Homo sapiens: one gene and its partner. The protein of the gene in region 2 interacts with the protein of the main gene of each other region in a pairwise test. Each region holds a gene or a part of one and is shown on either strand. Other genes may lie near its edges.

Region 1 (3,613 bases), on a different chromosome or scaffold from region 2:
AAGGCCCCTCCTCCTGGGCCCTCCCAGGCATGCGCTCCACTGTACAGCTGGCGCACAGAGAAGGAGCCACTGAGCGACCCCGTGGGCACCTGCTACCTCTCCACAGATAACTTCACCCGAATTCTGGAGTATGCACCCTGCCGCTCAGGTAGGGGCAAGAGGGGGCCTGTGCCCCATGTCTGCCTTCTCATATACTTGAAGTGTCTCACATACTTAGGGTTGACTCGCACCTACCATGTGCCCCCATGAGGTTCTAGGTTGCTTAAGATAAAGGCTAACCCAGTTCGTTAGCCTTTATGCTTACTGTCTGGTCCAGGAAGGCCCTTTCTCTGGTTCTCTCTCCCACCTCCTTCCCTATGCCCTCTCTTCTTTCCTGGATGACCCATCTATGCAGGGCTCATTTTCACCACCTTCTCCCCTCACAGATTTCAGCTGGGCAGCAGGACAGGGTTACTGCCAAGGAGGCTTCAGTGCCGAGTTCACCAAGGTGAGAGAGTGGTCTGGGAGAGAAGGGGCCGTGGGTGGTGGACATGGGGGGATTGGGACCAGATGTTGGACTCCCCTCCTTTCACCCACAGACTGGCCGTGTGGTTTTAGGTGGACCAGGAAGCTATTTCTGGCAAGGTAAGTCCTGTCTCTGCCATTCTTTTTTTTTTTTTTTTTTTTTTTTGAGACGAAGTCTCACTCTGTCACCCAGGCTGGAGTGCAGTGGCACAACCTCTGCTGCCCAGGTTCAAGCGATTCTCCTGCCTCAGCCTCCCAAGTAGCTGGGATTACAGGCGCCTGCCACCGCGCCTGGCTAATTTTTGTAATTTTAGTAGAGAAGGGGTTTCACCATCTTGGCCAGGCTGGTCTTGGACTCCTGACCTCGTGATCCACCCCTCTTGGCCTCTCAAAGTGCTGGGATTATAGGCATGAGCCGCCGCGCCCTGCCTGTTTCTGCCATTCTTTAAGTCCCCTGGCACATAGCCTCCCACCCTACTCCCAATTCTCCTCTTCCTTTCCTGAAGCTTACATGCCACCACCCTCCCCATGCTTCCCTTTCTTGAACCAGACTTCTGAAATACTACCCAGTCAGCCCCCAGAGTCCCAAGCCCCCTCTGCCACTTCCTCTCCATCTACTCCCTCTTCATACTCTCTCCAGGCCAGATCCTGTCTGCCACTCAGGAGCAGATTGCAGAATCTTATTACCCCGAGTACCTGATCAACCTGGTTCAGGGGCAGCTGCAGACTCGCCAGGCCAGTTCCATCTATGATGACAGCTACCTAGGTGAGCAAGCAAGTGGGGAAGGGATGGCAGAGGGAGAACCTCAAGTGCTCCTGTCCCCACTCACCCCCTCGCCTCCCCTCTCCTACTCAGGCATCCCCAGCACCCCTGCCATACTTGTCATGTGCCTGCTGACTATGAAGGCCCAGTAGGGGTGGGGAAGGGATTGGTGGATAGGCCAGAGCAGAGGGGTCCTCAAAGCAGGAATCCTAACATCCACCCACCCTGTCCCCCAGGATACTCTGTGGCTGTTGGTGAATTCAGTGGTGATGACACAGAAGGTGAGTGTGTCCCCAGGCTGGGGCCAAGGGAGGGGGATGGTTAGAGGCACAGGGCCAGAGAGCCCATGAACTTGGCCACTTACCATTATCTGCTTCCCTTTCCCCACCCTTAGGTCACAACTTTCTCTTCTCTTTGCAGACTTTGTTGCTGGTGTGCCCAAAGGGAACCTCACTTACGGCTATGTAAGACCCAGCCTGACCCCTCACTTCCTCTCCTCCCCTGCCTAATCACAAAGAACCGTGCATGGCAGTTTGCAAGGGCTCAAAAAGGTGGATCAGAACATGGGCTCTGGAGGCAGACTGGCATTCAAGTTCTGGCACTTACTCTGGCAGAATCATTCTGCTCTTTATTCATACTCTGCTTCCTGCTGAACCTCTCTGAGCCTTCTTCTTCTCTGTATACTGGGATAACAATCGTTCTGACCTCACGAGGCTCTGGCAAGGATGAAATGAGAAAATGCATGTGAAAGTACTCAGTGAATTGTTAGGCAATGTACAACTGGCAGATGTTATTATTAGACCAGGACAAGTGCTTTTTAAAAGATACAGATAAGAGTGCCATCGGATTTCATTCAATTAACAACATTTATTAAGGCAAGGTAAGAGATAAGATGAATAAGGTATCATACCCCATCTTATAAGATGCTTCTAATCAAGTATGTTAGATAAGACACACATACAATTATGATCTAAAGTGGAGCAACTATTCATTCTCTACTCAGTGCATCAGGCACTATCTATTCATGATTTCTATTCTTCACAACAAGCCTATGGGGTAGATATTATCATCTGTATTTTGCATATGAGAACACTGAGGTTCTAAGAGACCAAGTAAGTTGCTTAAGATCACCCAGTTAGTAAGTAGGTTTAAAATCAGGTCTCTCTTAATCCAAAATCAGCATTCTTTCTGCATTTTGGTAAACTTCAGCAAAGTGGATACAGTGGCATAGCAGTTTAGGGGAAAGAATAATCTCCTTTCTAGGAAAAGGATGGTAACAAGTTTGGGGAGTCAGGAAATAAAAATTTTAAATTTTTAAAAAGGAAGAGGACAGATGAGAGAAGGTTCTATGAAGGTTCAGCAGAGATGAGGCAGGAGGGCATCCTGTGCAGGAGCATGAATGAGGTGGAAGAAAAGGAAACAATTTCAGCCCAACTTAGCAGACTCATGAGCTGATTGAGGATGAGTAGAATATGGAAAGGTTGAGCAAAAACAGATAGGTTAGGGCCAGATTCTCCAGAGCTTTGGAGGACCAGCCAAGAAGTTGAGACTTTGGGCAGTGACTGCAGGGGGCCACTGGATTTCCAAGCCAGAGGTAGCCTCCTAGATCTGCTGGGAGAGCTGGAGGCAGGGACATTGTCAAGACATCTGTCCAGCAGTCCTGGGAAAGGGCTCACACCAGGATTCAAGAGGCCTGGTGGGGCCAGTCACTAAGGGAATATAGGGGAGAAATGGTGTTTGTGGTTCGGGGGACTGGAGGATGAGGATGACTTAGGTTTTGAACGTGATGGGTTTGAGGCACCAGCACACATTCAGTCATAATTATTATTGAGTGCCTACTACTCACCAAGCATGACTTTAGGTTCTGAGGAGAAAGCAAAGAACAAAATCAAGTTCCTGCCCCTATTGATCTTACATTCTAGTGGGTAGAGAGGGACAACGAACAGATAAATACAAAATCTGTCAGTGGTTGGTGATTGATAGGGAGAAAAATAGTGAAGCAGACATAGGGTGGAACTACCTGGCATAGAGGTGGGAATATGAGGGCAAAGCTGAAGAGGGAGCTAGGGACAGTGGTCTGCGTCTCTAAGGAATGCCTGCCCCTGGGTGTCCTGTACACATCTGTTCTTTAACCATGGGATATTCTGGGAGTCCAGGACCAATGGGCCTATCTCTTCATCTCCCAGGTCACCATCCTTAATGGCTCAGACATTCGATCCCTCTACAACTTCTCAGGGGAACAGGTAAGGATACCCCTCAACCCCACCCCAGCTTGGCCTCTGTCAACGAAGCCCCAGCCCTGACCTAATAATGTCAGCCCAACTTCCCAGCCCCTCTTGATCCTGT
Region 2 (3,862 bases):
TCACTTAGCATAGTATCTTCAAGGTTCATCCATGTTGTAGCATAGATCAGTGCTTCATACCTTTTTAAGGCTGAATAATATTCCATTGCATGGATAGACCACATTTTCCTTACCTGTTCGTCAGTTGGTAGACATTAAGATTGTTCCCACTTTTTGGCTGTTATTGCTGCTGTGAACATTCCTGTACAAGTTTTTGTGTGTGCAGATGCCGCCATTTCTCTTGGTCTATACCTAGGAGTAGAATTACTAGGTCATATGGTAATGATGTTTAAGCTTTTGGGGAACTGCCAGACTGTTTTCCAAAGCAGCTGTACCATTTTACATGACAATGATTTTAATTGACATCTTAATTGAAGGATTTAGAAAACAATGTTAAGATAAAAAAAGAAGGTGGCCGCCTGGAGCTGAGGTGGGCTCCCAGTGTGGGTCTGGGGAGGTGGAGCAGTGGGAGACCGTGCCAGTCCTCTGATTGGCTGGGAGAGAAGACGGCAAGTCCCAGGTCATCGCAGGGCGGGGAGCCAGGGAGTCACCAGCTCCAGGCTCTGCGTGGTGGTGCCCAGCGGAGGGGCCGGCTGAGATTCAGCCTGTACTCCCCGCCCCAACTGCATACCCAGGAAGCTGTGGGCAGGCGAAGGAGGTGCCTGGCATTGGCCTTTACACAGCCTCACAGTCATTGAGCAGTGAGGAATAACGTACGCAGTTCACAGAGGGGAAAACCAGGCTTCGGAGAGAAGGGCCTGCCCCACTTAGGAAGTGCGTGGGGCACCTGGTTTCTCCAAATCAGAGAGCTGCTGGTGTCAGGCAGCACTAGGCCAAGACCCGAGGCAGAATCAGGGCTGAGCTGCCTTCGCGTGTGCGTGTGTGTGTTTCCTATCTGACCGTTGCCTCTGTCCCACCAGCCCCAGGCCATTTACTGCAAGGATGTTCTGGACATTGAACAGTTCTCTACGGTCAAGGGCGTGGAGCTGGAGCCTACCGACCAGGACTTCTACCAGAAGTTTGCCACAGGCAGTGTGCCCATCCCCTGGCAGAACGAGGTGGGGGCCTGCCCTGCTGGTGGGGTGGGCTCCAGGAGGCTGCCCTGGGGACAGCTGTCACAGCCGCCTGCTCCTCAGCAGATGGTGGAGACCGAGTGCTTCCAAGAGCTGAATGTCTTTGGGCTGGATGGCTCAGTTCCCCCAGACCTGGACTGGAAGGGCCAGCCACCTGCACCTCCTAAAAAGGGACTGCTGCAGAGACTCTTCAGTCGCCAAGTAAGCCCCAGCAGCGGCCTACCTGGGCCCCTAACCTGGCTCCAGGGGACGGTGGGTGGGAGGCAGAGCCGGTGCCCGCATGCGCTGGGAGTGGGCGTCCTCCAGTCCTGTTGTGGTGCCCAGGGTCTCTGGCCTCATTCCCGCCTGTCCCCCACCCCTGGCTGGGCTCATGGCCTCTTTTCTCTTTCCAGAGGTGAGCAGTGTGGGCTCCCCGTGGGTTGGCCTTGCTGCCTGGCCTCGGGGAGCCACGGGCAGCCCTTCCATGGCAAAGGCAAGATGTGGGAGAAAGAAGTCTGGTGCCCGCCCCACTCCCCCTGCCCACTGCTTTGATCCCCTGCACCCTGGCCCCTTCGAGCTGCCAGCTTTGCTTCGCTTGTCTCCCCGTGCCCTGTCTCTGCCAGCCCCAGGGGAGAGGGCTGGGCAGAGGCCTTGCCCTGGCAGACCGTGGGATCTACCCAGCCCCCTTACTTCAGTCTGTTGCCGGCAGCCTCTGCAATGACGCCCACCCACGTGTGGCCTGAGCTGCTGCTCCAGGCTCCTTGTGGAGAGGCCCCTCCCCAGAGTGCACCCCTCAGGCAGCTCCTGGCCTGCCCTGGCAGGGTCGGCCCCATGTGACGTCCCTCGTGGTTAATGGCACCTGCTCTGCCTCTCTCCCTCCCTCCGTGTCTTCCCCGTCCCTCCAGGATTGCTGTGGAAACTGCAGCGACAGCGAGGAAGAGCTCCCCACCCGCCTCTAGCCCCCAGCCCGAGGCCCCCACCAGCAGTTGGCGGTAGCAGCTACTCCGAGCGCCGTTTACAGTTTTGCACAGTGATCTTCCCCATTGTCCACTCAAGTCGTGGCCTGGGGAACACAGACGGAGCTGTCCCCAGTGTCCTCCGTCCCTCAGCCCCTGGCCTGGCTGAGTTTGGCAGGGCCTGGGCCATCCCTGGGACAAAGGTGCGTCCCTTCAGCTCTTCTCCGTGGAGCTCGGGGCTTTCTGTATTTATGTATTTGTACGAATGTATATAGCGACCAGAGCATTCTTAATTCCCGCCGCAGACCTGGCGCCCCCGCCTTGGCTCCTGGGGGCAGCCAGCCCTGGCTGGGAGAGCGGGAGCTGGCAGAGGAGCCACTGCCAAACTCAAGGCTCCTCTGGCCCAGCTTGGATGGCTGAGGGTGGTCACACCCCTGAGCCTTCAGCACTGTGCTGGCCACCCCGGCCTCTGAGTAAGACTCGTGCCTCCCCCTGCTGCCCTGGGCTCAGGCTGCTACCCTCTGGGGCCCAAAGCTGTCCCTTCTCAGTGCTTGTCAGCGCTGGGTCTGGGGCCTCTGTATGCCCTAGGCCTGTGCCAAAGTGGCCAGAGATTGGGCTGCCTGTGATACCCATCAGCCCACTGCCCCGGCCGGCCCAGATAGGTCTGCCTCTGCCTTCCAGCTCCCACAGCCTGGTCCCTGATACTGGGCTCTGTCCTGCAGACACCTCTTTCAGAAACGCCCAAGCCCAGCCCCTAGGAGGGGGTGGGGCATCCCTGGTCAACCCTCAAACATTCCGGACTCCCCTCATAACAATAGACACATGTGCCCAGCAATAATCCGCCCCTTCCTGTGTGCGCCTGTGGGGTGCGTGCGCGCGCGTGTGTACCTGTGTGGGTGAAGGGGATAGGGCGAGGCTGTGCCTGTGCCCCAGGTCCCAGCCCTGGCCCTTCCCAGACTGTGATGGCCATCCTGGTCCCAGTGTTAGGGTAGCATGGGATTACAGGGCCCTGTTTTTTCCATATTTAAAGCCAATTTTTATTACTCGTTTTGTCCAACGTAAGCTGCCACATGTCTCTGTGTGAATAGTCCGAGCACAAACCTGGCTAGCCGCCCCTGCCTGCCTCTTTCTTGCTTCCGGTGCTCCAGGGGTCTTCCTGCTCCCCTGGCCCAGCTGGAAGCGGGAAGGGATTGGAGGTGGGCCTGGAGGGAAGCAGGGTGTGCCCTTCCGAGGCCCAGGAGCCCCCAGGGCTGACTCTGAACTAGCCTCTCCAGACAGCCAGGCTTTGGTAGCCTTTGGGCTCACCCAGTGGGTTTCCCAACTTCCTAAATGGGATGGGGCCTAAGGAAAGAAGCCTTGGGTACCCACTGGGATGTGGGTCTGTTTCTGACTGCTGGTAAGGCGGGCCCCGTTGGTGTCCTCCCCTCCAAGGCTAAGGTGGCCTGGCTGCCTAAATGTGGACGTAAGAGTAGGGTGGGAGCTGTGTAAGGAATGTCTGCCCCAGGCCTGCGTTACCTGGACGCCAGCCATGTACGGGCCCCGGGCTGAGGCACGTGCATCATATCCACCCCTCTGTTTTGCCCTTGACACATTATGGGCAAAGACCTAGACAGTGGGTGACGCTGGCAGATAGGCTGTGGCCAGTGTGGGAGAGTTCTCTGAAGACGGTGGTTGAGCCGGCCTCGAAGTGGACATTCACCTGGGAGGAAGGGGGACTGGGAGGCACTCAAGGGGAGCTTCCTGCCTGGGCTCTGGGGCTGAGAGCTTGTTGCCTACCAGTCTGTCCCAGATCTGGCAACCCCATCACTGCTCTATAGACTCCCAGTGTCCCCAGCTCCCTGAGAATGCCCCGTAAGCCCCATCAAGCTTGTTCCT

Evidence for each region.
Region 1: the proteins of GRK6 (region 2) and ITGA5 interact in a two-hybrid assay, tested with the Homo sapiens proteins (one large-scale study listed by BioGRID and IntAct).

Annotation. Positions count from the first base shown.
Region 1 is NC_000012.12:54,405,767-54,409,379, reverse strand, and holds part of ITGA5 (integrin alpha-5 precursor), read left to right. Parts: intron 1-27; coding exon 28-148; intron 149-425; coding exon 426-487; intron 488-578; coding exon 579-624; intron 625-1,144; coding exon 1,145-1,270; intron 1,271-1,503; coding exon 1,504-1,548; intron 1,549-1,687; coding exon 1,688-1,731; intron 1,732-1,873; exon of another isoform or gene 1,874-1,983; intron 1,984-3,453; coding exon 3,454-3,510; intron 3,511-3,613.
Region 2 is NC_000005.10:177,439,801-177,443,662, forward strand, and holds the end of GRK6 (G protein-coupled receptor kinase 6), read left to right. Parts: intron 1-113; exon of another isoform or gene 114-231; intron 232-899; coding exon 900-1,037; intron 1,038-1,118; coding exon 1,119-1,253; intron 1,254-1,444; coding exon of another isoform or gene 1,445-1,450; exon of another isoform or gene 1,451-1,553; intron 1,554-1,934; coding exon of another isoform or gene 1,935-1,936; coding exon 1,937-1,990; coding exon of another isoform or gene 1,991-2,027; 3' UTR 2,028-3,091; downstream 3,092-3,862.